Homo sapiens: one gene and its partners. The protein of the gene in region 3 purifies or fractionates together with the protein of the main gene of each other region. This does not show direct contact. Each region holds a gene or a part of one and is shown on either strand. Other genes may lie near its edges.

Evidence for each region.
Region 1: the proteins of SHISA2 (region 3) and RAP1B purify together in Homo sapiens (affinity purification with mass spectrometry; one large-scale study listed by BioGRID and IntAct). This does not show direct contact.
Region 2: the proteins of SHISA2 (region 3) and PTGES2 purify together in Homo sapiens (affinity purification with mass spectrometry; 3 studies listed by BioGRID and IntAct, with this or other methods). This does not show direct contact.

Annotation. Positions count from the first base shown.
Region 1 is NC_000012.12:68,655,737-68,659,463, forward strand, and holds part of RAP1B (ras-related protein Rap-1b isoform 1 precursor), read left to right. Parts: intron 1-569; coding exon 570-713; intron 714-1,364; coding exon 1,365-1,451; 3' UTR 1,452-1,481; intron 1,482-3,543; 3' UTR 3,544-3,727. UniProt on the Homo sapiens protein: GTP-binding protein that possesses intrinsic GTPase activity. Contributes to the polarizing activity of KRIT1 and CDH5 in the establishment and maintenance of correct endothelial cell polarity and vascular lumen.
Region 2 is NC_000009.12:128,122,462-128,124,729, reverse strand, and holds part of PTGES2 (prostaglandin E synthase 2), read left to right. Parts: intron 1-179; coding exon 180-238; intron 239-878; coding exon 879-1,028; intron 1,029-1,595; coding exon 1,596-1,796; intron 1,797-2,083; coding exon of another isoform or gene 2,084-2,129; exon of another isoform or gene 2,130-2,244; intron 2,245-2,250; coding exon 2,251-2,268. UniProt on the Homo sapiens protein: Isomerase that catalyzes the conversion of PGH2 into the more stable prostaglandin E2 (PGE2) (in vitro). The biological function and the GSH-dependent property of PTGES2 is still under debate.
Region 3 is NC_000013.11:26,049,050-26,053,321, reverse strand, and holds the start of SHISA2 (protein shisa-2 homolog precursor), read left to right. Parts: upstream 1-1,305; 5' UTR 1,306-2,346; coding exon 2,347-2,680; intron 2,681-4,272. UniProt on the Homo sapiens protein: Plays an essential role in the maturation of presomitic mesoderm cells by individual attenuation of both FGF and WNT signaling.

The DNA of each region.
Region 1 (3,727 bases), on a different chromosome or scaffold from region 3:
TGTTGGCCAGGCTGGTCTCCAACTCCTGACCTCAGGTGATCCACCCGCCTCGGCCTCCCAAAGTGCTGGGATTACAGGCGTGAGCCACTGTGCCTGGCCTTGATTGACTTTTTTAATACAAGACTATGAGAAACTAAAAATTCTATTTTGGGAGCCTTCCGTCCATTATGATAAAATTTTAAGGTTTTTTCCCCCCATCTCTCATAACAGGATCATAGCTTGTTTTCTCAAAAGTTTATGTAAAAGTGTCTTATTTATGTCTACATTGACTAGGTTGTGTTCATTTTACTTAACATATGAGAGTTTTCTTTCTCTCTTTTCTTCCCTTTGGAGTTATCGTTTGCATCTCCATGAAAAGAGAAGGCAGTGGAGATAATTGACATCAAAGTTAATACTTATGTTTATGTTACAGATTAAATTGTTAAGGCTGTAAATTTTATTATACATTATTTAATATTTTTTGTGGCATATGAAAAGTAATTCTTAGATTTGACTCTTAGAATTCTTTTGATTTGAATTCATATAGCATATTTACTTATTTATTTTTACTCTCACAAATGTATTTTTAGGTTCCAATGATTCTTGTTGGTAATAAGTGTGACTTGGAAGATGAAAGAGTTGTAGGGAAGGAACAAGGTCAAAATCTAGCAAGACAATGGAACAACTGTGCATTCTTAGAATCTTCTGCAAAATCAAAAATAAATGTTAATGAGGTATGGTCAAATATACTTAAAATGGGTCTTCATTTGAAGTACAACATTGAAGATGAATGGAAAATGTCTTAACCCCAAGTTAATATGTACTCAGGGTAATATGTTGATGTTACAGGCAAAAAAAAAAAACCCTCATGTTAAATGTATCTATGTAGTAAATAAACAATACTATTTCAGTCTCTATTAAATACTTGTACATTGATATTTACCATGAAAAAGGAAGACTGGACAGAAAATACATGGATAGGGAAGACAGATTAAGACTTCAGGTATATGAAGGATGTTATATGAAAAATAGAGTAAAATTCCGAAAAGTATGCATGGTTCTTGAAAGGCTCCAAGTCATGTTGTAGAGCAAAAACTTACAGTTTTTAAAAGGATTTTTTCTTTGTGTGATGGTAAATGTTCTAATTGAACTAAGTTAAGATCTCTGCAGCTCCTTCAACTAAGTATTTTAAGGAGCACAATATTAACACTCCCCAAAAATTTGAGCTTGGCAGTTATAACACCTGATTTTATTCTCATTCCTTAGCTGAACAATTCTGGGCATTAATTTATATCCATGGAAATTTCTGTTTTTTCAATTTACTTTTTTCATTGGGGGGGATAGGTGTTCCTCCTGTAAATTAAAACAAATTATTGTATTTGCAGATCTTTTATGACCTAGTGCGGCAAATTAACAGAAAAACTCCAGTGCCTGGGAAGGCTCGCAAAAAGTCATCATGTCAGCTGCTTTAATATACTAAATGCATTGTAGCTCTGAGCCAGGTATGTTCACTTATCTTTCCTCTAACTTTTAATCACTCAACCTTATTAAGGGCACTCTGTCATGAAAGCAAGTATAGACTTCTTTTTGTTGGTTCTGAAAAATAAATGGTTTATTTTTATAAGATATCCATGAGTTAGTATGCTATCTTATTAATTATTTACTTATCATCATGAGTAAAGTATTTCACATAAGTATTCTTTTTTTGAGATGGAGTTTCACTCTGTCACCCAGGCTGGAGTGCAGTGGCGCAATATCAGCTCCCTGCAACCTCCGCCTCCCAGGTTCAAGCAATGCTTCTGCCTCAGCCTCCCGAGTAGCTGGGATTACAGGCACGTGCCACCACGCCCGGCTAGTTTTTTTGTATTTTTAGTAGAGATGGTGTTTCACCATTGTTGGCCAGGATGGTCTCAATCTCTTGACCTCGTGATCTGCCCACCTCGGCCTCCCAAAGTGCTGAGATTACAGGCGTGAGCCACCACTCCCAGCCAACCCCGTCCCTAATTTAAAACACACACACACACACACACACACACACACACACACACACACACACACGTGCGCGCGTGCGCGTGAGCCACCGCTCCCAGCCAACCGTCCCTAATTTAAAACACACACACACACACACACCCCTGACATGTTCATCATGTGCCAGTCACACACACACACACACCCCTGACATGTTCATCATGTGCCACTTTTTTTTTTTTCCTTCAACTTTTAAGTTCCAGGATACATGTGCAGGATGTGCAGGTTTGTTACATAGGTAAAGGTGTACCATGGGGTTTGCTGCACAGATCTTGCATCGGTACCTGGCACATAGTTAACACTCAACTATTAGCTGCTGCTGTTTGCCAATGATAATGGTTTCCTCTTCAGCTGTCATTAAACTGTTTATTGTTAAACTGTTAATTTATTCTTAAGAACCTTTGACATTCCTGACTCTTATTTCTTCCTATGTTAATTGACTCAGTGCTGCCATAGCACTTTGATTCTGCATCTTTTCAGAGTTTTTATTCCTGCCTTCCATCTAGGGCTTTCTGTTTAGTGGTATATCCTCTCATTCTAATATCCTATAATTCCTGACCACATGCCCATTCTTAGCAGCACACATGTGCTTGAGCTCACACACTTCCATCTGTCCTTTTTAATTTGCAACAGTCTGCCAGGATTTAGAAAACTTGATTGCAAACCTCATTCAGACTCAGAATGAGGACCTAAAGTTCTAGGCATTTGTGAAAATTATTTCAACAGCCACATATGTATTAACAACTCTTCTGGAGCTTGTAACAAGTCTGATCACCAGAAAAATATAATAGGGAACATTTTTTTAGCCGAGGCATGTATGCAGAAAACTATTCAAAGTACATATTTAACAATTCTAAGTTTACTTTTTAAAATCTTTAATTACATGTGATTTTAGTGTAATACCACCTTTTTCTGACATCAGTCTTAATAGAATGTTTAAATATGGAATTAGAAATTATATAACGTGATTGTAAATCTGTAAAACACCATCATGAAATAAATTCTATTTGTCTGCTCTGAACGAGCTTTTTAGCCACTTTCATTGAAAGAGTGAGGAAGAACTTGATTATCTGATACTAGAAACCTTGGTTAGATGTGCATTCTATACTTATGATCTAATTCTAGGAGTACATTACGATTGTGTAAACACAGGATCACCCAGTTTGTTAATATTGCTATCTGACTTTTCAATCCTAATTCTAATAAGGTTGACTTGACTAACAATTTTAATGTGATTTTTTTCCTTTTTAATCCTTGGAAGGTAATGCACAAAAATTTGCACAAAGGTACTTTCCCTTTCTGTTCCTAAGATTTTCATTTAACTGACTTTCAAGAGGGCAGCAGAATAGACTTCATCTTTTTGGAATGAAAAGGTCTGCCGTGAATTGTGGTATGTTGCCACTAATGTAATGCCTAGAACAAGAGCCTAGATTATATTCATTTCTAACACTTTTAAGACTGTTTTCTTAACTGTTTGCTTTTGGGTCTTTACTTTTTCTAGCCCATGTTTTTAATTAATTTTTTTCCTTTTGACAGGTCTGAAGAACTGTTGCCCAATTCAACAGTGCCAGCATTCCAACTTTGTTAAACCTACCAACATCTTAAATGGACTTTCCTGTGGTGGTACCCTTTAAGAGGCGGATGAAAGCTACTATATCAGTTTGCACATTCTAATCACTTTCCAGTATCACAAGAGAGATTTTTACTTATATAATAGTCC
Region 2 (2,268 bases), on a different chromosome or scaffold from region 3:
CATTGGCCACAACCACGTCTCCCTACTTAGGATGGGTGCCCTGAGGGCAGGGCGGGGAGGACTCCGGGCATGTCCCCAGGAATGGATAAACAATGCCCAGAGTGTCTTGTTAAAGAGCCCCTGGTGACTCCCAGCGGCTGGGTTGCAACCTCTGATTAAACCACCCTTTTCTCTTCCAGCAACAACTAAATGACTCCTCTGTCATCATCAGCGCCCTCAAGACCTACCTGGTGTCGGGGTAAGGAGCCCCTCGGAGACCAGGTGGCCATTGCTTTTGGTGGCTTCCTCCAGGGAGGCCTCCCCTGAGTTCCCTCCTGGGAGCACGTGGAGCTGCTGCTTAGATTTCCAGAGTACAGAGTGGCTCGCACCTGTAATCCCAGCACTTTGGGAGGCCGAGGCAGGCAGATCACCTGAGGTCAGGAGTTCCAGACCAGCCTGGCCAACATGGCGAAGCTCCATCTCTACTAAAAATACAAAAATTAGCCAGGCATAGTGGCGAGTGCCTGTAGTCCCAGCTACTCAGGAGGCTGAGGCAGGAGAATCGCTTGAACCCGGGAGGCAGAGGGTTGCGGTGAGCCAAGATCGTGCCACTGCACTCCAGCCTGGGTGACAGAGCGAGACTCCGTCTCAAAAAAAAAAAAAAATGATTTTCCAGAGTAGCCCGTGGCCGTCCTCCTCCAAGCCCCCTACTTTGTCCTCCCCACACCTCCCTCTCTTGGGGAGGTAGCCCTGGCATCTACTCCAAATCCCTCTTACTGCAAGAGTCCGGAGAGCCTTTGTTGGTCCTGGCTCCACTCTGAGGCTGGGGCAGCGGGGTTGGTCGGCCACAGGGGACGGAGGGGGAAGGAGTTGGGGTGATATTGTGGCTCTCTCCGAAGGCAGCCCCTGGAAGAGATCATCACCTACTACCCAGCCATGAAGGCTGTGAACGAGCAGGGCAAGGAGGTGACCGAGTTCGGCAATAAGTACTGGCTCATGCTCAACGAGAAGGAGGCCCAGCAAGTGTATGGTGGGAAGGAGGCCAGGACGTGAGTGGGGCTGGGGCTGGCGGGGGAAGGTGGTGACCGCAGGGGTCTTCTGTAGAGTAGGACCAAGCTGAGCAAGATGGCGTGAGCAGGGAGCAGCATGGGAGACCAGCGGGGCTGGGGCCGGGCCATGCCGGATTTCAGTAGAGACCTTCCTGCAGCCGGGCGTGGTGGCTCACTCCTGTAATCCCAGCCTGTTGGGAGGCCGAGGCAGGCAGATCACCTGAGGTCAGGAGTTCAAGACCAGCCTGGCCAACATGGCAAAACCCCATCTCTATAAAAATGCAAAAATTAGCTAGGTGTGGAGGCACACACCTATAATCCCAGCTACTAAGGAGGCTGAAGCAGGAGAATCGCTTGAACCCAGGAGGCGGAGGATGCAGTGAGCTGAGATGGTGCCATTGCACTCCAGCCTGGGTGACAGAGCGAGACTTTGTCTCAAAAAAAAAAAAAAGACCTTCCTGCTCAGGCTTCAGCTTCCCGCCCGTGCAGTGGGTATGTTCTAGAGAATGCAGCCTGCTCCCAACACAGCCCGGGTCCTGGCTTAGGAAGTCCCTCCCGTGCCCGCAGGGAGGAGATGAAGTGGCGGCAGTGGGCGGACGACTGGCTGGTGCACCTGATCTCCCCCAATGTGTACCGCACGCCCACCGAGGCTCTGGCGTCCTTTGACTACATTGTCCGCGAGGGCAAGTTCGGAGCCGTGGAGGGTGCCGTGGCCAAGTACATGGGTGCAGCGGCCATGTACCTCATCAGCAAGCGACTCAAGAGCAGGCAAGTGTGTGTGCACATCCGGGGCCTGCTGTCCCCGAGCCTCCGGTGCCACGAGCAGTGGTGATCCCATCACACCCCTCAGGAGACCAGCGGGAGGCCGAGGCCTAGGGCAGGTGGGAAACGCATTATGGATTATGGGTCCCTTGGCCAAGATGGGACTTGGACCCAGAGCTCCTGCTCACCTCCCCTGGGGACAGCAGGGCTGGCCTTGAAGCCGGAAGCCTGGGCCCTGACTGGCGCCTCCTCTGTGGCTTTCTCCCTGGCCTGGTCTCTTGCCTTTACCACAGCCTCCCCGTCTGGGACGGATGCTCCCTGAGGCGTCTGCAGATGTGATGCTCTCACCTGGGGTGCCGTCCTGGCTTCCACACCTCCCCCCTCTCCCCAGAGGAGACCCTCTTCCCTGCTGGGCTGGGAGTGGGGGCTCCCCTGAGGGGCTTTTCCCTTCCCCGCCCAGGCACCGCCTCCAGGACAA
Region 3 (4,272 bases):
ATGAATGATTTCTTGACATTGAAATTTTTTTTAGCTTACTAGCTTAAGACATTTGGTGAATAGTGCATTTAAAGTATATAATTTTGTGTAGCTTAAAACGATACACAACCAAAAAACTGCAAGAAAACAAAGTGCAATGCTTGGAGAGAGGTTTAGTGAAAAGAATAAGGTGTGTGTTGGGGAGCAGGGACATAGGGTAGGGTTTTTTTTCTTGGATTTGACATTGTTGGGGCAAGTGGAAGAATAATCAACAATGTCTGAATCTTCACATTAACCAGGCATACACAAGCATCCAATGGCTGCTTGAACCTGAGTGTCTTTGCTGTGAATAAAACTGCCTGTGTTCTGAAGTCATGGACTTGAAAGGGACCTTAGTGATCGTCACATCCTATGCTCCACTTTATAGATGAAGAAACTGAGACCAGAAAAACGCAGTGATTCCCTGCTAGTAGGGCTGGGTCTAGAATTCAGGTCTGCTGACTCCCAGACGGTGTGGGAAGGGGCATTCGTTCCTTTAAAAATAAGCACTGCTGCTTTAATAACATCAGCACCTGTTGTTCCAGCTTCTGCAAGAGAGAAGCTATTAATTTCTCCTTCATCAAAGCTGAATTTCTGGTCTGTCTGAACCTTGTTTTCTTCCTGACTGCAGCTGTCTAAACCACTAAGGCCACATGTTGGACGGAGGCACTTTCCTGCTGGAATCCGATAAATCACCACACCCAAATATAGAAAGAAAAAGGGACACAGATCATCCACACCGTGGCCGAATGTGTGACATCTTTGCTGAACTCTCTCCGTTCCACCTTGTGGTGGAGGCCTCCAGTCCACCAAACACAGCCCTAGGCGTGTGAACCCTGCCACAAACATCGGTGCTCTTCCTGCACAGGGCCTGGGACCAACCGTGGCCAGGACATCAGCTGCTGGAAGCCGAGAGAGTTCATCTGAGTGGCGATTTTATGATCTGCAGAGTGGAAAGTAATCATAATCCCTTGAGAAGTTTGCAGAATCGAACCGAATGTTGAATGCCAAAGATCTTCACAAAGCAAGTTGAGTTTCTTCCGTTATTATTGTTATTTGTGTTAGCGAGGCCTGGATTGCTTAGGTTGGGTTTCCTCCCGCGCCTATTCCAGCAGGCAGACCCCGCCCTTGGCCACACCTTTCTCCTTGCCCGGGGTAGGAAAGTGAGGGGCTGCCCGGCGCCCGCGGGCGTCCCTGAGGTCGGGGGTGGGGGGGAGCCGCGCAGCGCGCATGCGCGCCGGGGAGCCGCCGGCCTCTATAAGAGCGCGGCTCAGCGCGGCAGCGAGCGGAGTCGGAGCTGGTCTGGCGCCGGGCGGGGCGAGGCGAGGCTGTGGGCGGCTGCTGCGCTCGGCTTCTCCCGTAGCCCGGAGGAAAGAAACTTCCGTGGGAGGCTTCCATCGGTGCGCACACCTCCCGAGGGCGAGGCAGCGACCGGGAGAGGGAGAGCCGGCCGGAGGCTGCCGGGCTCCTGTGGGACCGCGCTGCAGCCGGGGAGGCGGAGAAGGGGAACCGGGGCGAGCCGCCCGCCTGGATCCGCGCCCAGCAGCAGCCGCGGCCGCCGCCAGCTGGGCAGGCTCCCGGGACTGCGGCTGGGGGCGCGCAGGACCCTCGCCTGCGTCCTGGACGTTCCCGGGGTCAGGAGCGCTCCCTCGGCGACGTGCTGGGAAGATTGGCCGTCGGCCCCGCCGAGTGGAGCGTCGGGGCTGCACCCCCGTGGGCTGCCCGGGCGGCCCGGCCGGAGCCATGCGGACCAAGTTCGGGGCAGAGGAGGCTGAGCGCGGCCGGCTGCGTCACTTGCTGCCCAGAGCCTTGCGTGCACTGCCCGCCTTCGCCCCTTCTACCCGCCCGAGGAGGGAATAAAGGAGGGGAGACGGGCCCTGATTCGCGCGCGGGACCCTGAGGCTTAAACCCTGCGCAGAGCCCTGGCTCCAGGTCCGCGGCGGCGCGCCCAGCGGTCATTCGGCTCGAGTGAGCATCCCTTCGGGGATGCTCAGGGAGGGTCCGGTTGCCAGTGAAACCTCCAGAGGCTTCCGGACGACAGCCCCGGGGGCCTTCTGACTGCATCCCGAGATTTCCATCAGCGAGTGCAACTCATAAGGCAGTCCCTAAGGGGACCGGGCCACCGGCTGAGGACGGGGATGGCTTAGGAGCTCCTGGACCTAGGGCCCGGCGTCGTCGCCTCCTGGGCGTCGCGGCAGAGGGGAGTGGCCCGCGCGGAAAGCGCCGCGGGACAGTCAGTGACGAGGCCCGGGGGTCGCCGGGGCCACGACTTCTCGGAGACCGTCCTGCGCTCTCTGGAGACGCGCTGTCCGCGCCCAGGGTGGTGCCATGTGGGGCGCTCGCCGCTCGTCCGTCTCCTCATCCTGGAACGCCGCTTCGCTCCTGCAGCTGCTGCTGGCTGCGCTGCTGGCGGCGGGGGCGAGGGCCAGCGGCGAGTACTGCCACGGCTGGCTGGACGCGCAGGGCGTCTGGCGCATCGGCTTCCAGTGTCCCGAGCGCTTCGACGGCGGCGACGCCACCATCTGCTGCGGCAGCTGCGCGTTGCGCTACTGCTGCTCCAGCGCCGAGGCGCGCCTGGACCAGGGCGGCTGCGACAATGACCGCCAGCAGGGCGCTGGCGAGCCTGGCCGGGCGGACAAAGACGGCCCCGACGGCTCGGCAGGTAGGGCGGCCTGCGCCCAGCGCGAAAGGGAGGACGGTTGGCGTTGCCTGGACGTCAGGGACCTGGGAGTTTGAAGGGGGGAAATTCAGGAAAGGGCCTAGGACCAGGAGGCGGAGTCTGCCTTCTGGCTTATTATTTGGTCGGTGTGGGTCCCTAATTCACCCTCACGGGCCTCAGTTTCTCCATCTGTCAGCCAAAGGGTGGCTTAGAGTTAATTTTCCGAACAAAATCACACTCCTAAGGCAGTGTGGGCCACAGACAGCCCCCATATTCCTTCTGACCAGGGTCCTCCGGGCCCCTCTGGCGTCTCCTGTCTCCATAGGGCTTCATGTCTTAGGGGTACCCAAGGAGACGGCGAGGGTGCGCCCCCACCCGTGAGGGCCTGGCAGCGGTGCTCCCCTGAAGGCTCCCCGAAAGGAAGGCAGCTCCTCAGGGCTTTCCCGGGGCTGCTGCCCCGTGCCAGACGCCGCGGATTCCCATCTTCTCCACGCGGCGGCCCCTCTCCCCTGCAGCGGCCCGCCTGTGGGGCTTCTGGACTGTTTTCCTTACCACGTCAGACTTAGTAGGTGTAACATCGGAGCAGTGCCCAGCCTTGCTCTTTGTGGCTTTGATTTTTTTTTTCTTTCAAATTGCCAAAGCCAGAGTTGGAAAGTAAACCCGTGAAAGAATTTGGTAGGTTGCACTTCACTCTTCAGAAACCTTCCGGAATGCCTCCCTGGGGTGTCTACACCAGTCACTCCGTGTGTGTGTGTGTGTGTGTGTGTGTGTGTGTGTGTGTTATTTATTTCGGGGGAGGGGAGGTGTAGAGGTAAAATGGCAAACGTGTCCCCGAGGGGGCGGCTCCTCCTCTTTGTGGGCCCGTTGTGTTTACCTGGGAGGCTTTTCGCTAGCATCCTGAGCCTGGGTTCGGGCTGCTTGAGCTTTGGCACAGCGTAGTTTGTGTTTATAGAGCTGCCTCCCAGGACCTCGTGAGAGACAGCTCTTTTCAGTGCCGTTCCCTTTCGCAGTCAAGCATTTTATTAGCATGCTACTCCTATTGTTCTGCTGTCTTGAATCTGAAGAGAGCGTAATTCCAGAACCAGCGCAGTCTTAAAACGCAAGCTCAGTCTCGCAGACTGTGTGGCCATGGAAGAAAGCCCAGAGAAGGGAGCCAGACCCCGAACTGCTACAGTGAGATGTCTGCTAGATTGGGCTCATTAATGGTCTCCAAAAAGTTGGGATGGCTTTGGATTAGTCGGGACTTCTCAGGACGAGACTTCTCATGACGCCCTGTGTTGTGCATGGATGCCTTCTTCATGCTACTTTTAAACGTTTTTTTCCTAAAAATTGTATTTCTTTCACTTTTCTTCTGCAGTGAAGGGCAACATGCCTAATTAAGCCTGCCGGGGGGCTTATAGTAGCGTTACATTCCTTATCCCTGTGTAGTTATTTACATTTCCAATTAAAAATCCTGGAAAGAGAACACTTATTTCTCCCCAAAACTCATTATGTGGACTGAGGCTGGTTTCAGCTAGTTTCTGCTATGATTGGGGTACATTTTTTTTCCTGCTTTACTACTATTAATTTATTTTTTGATAACATATTTAGGGCTG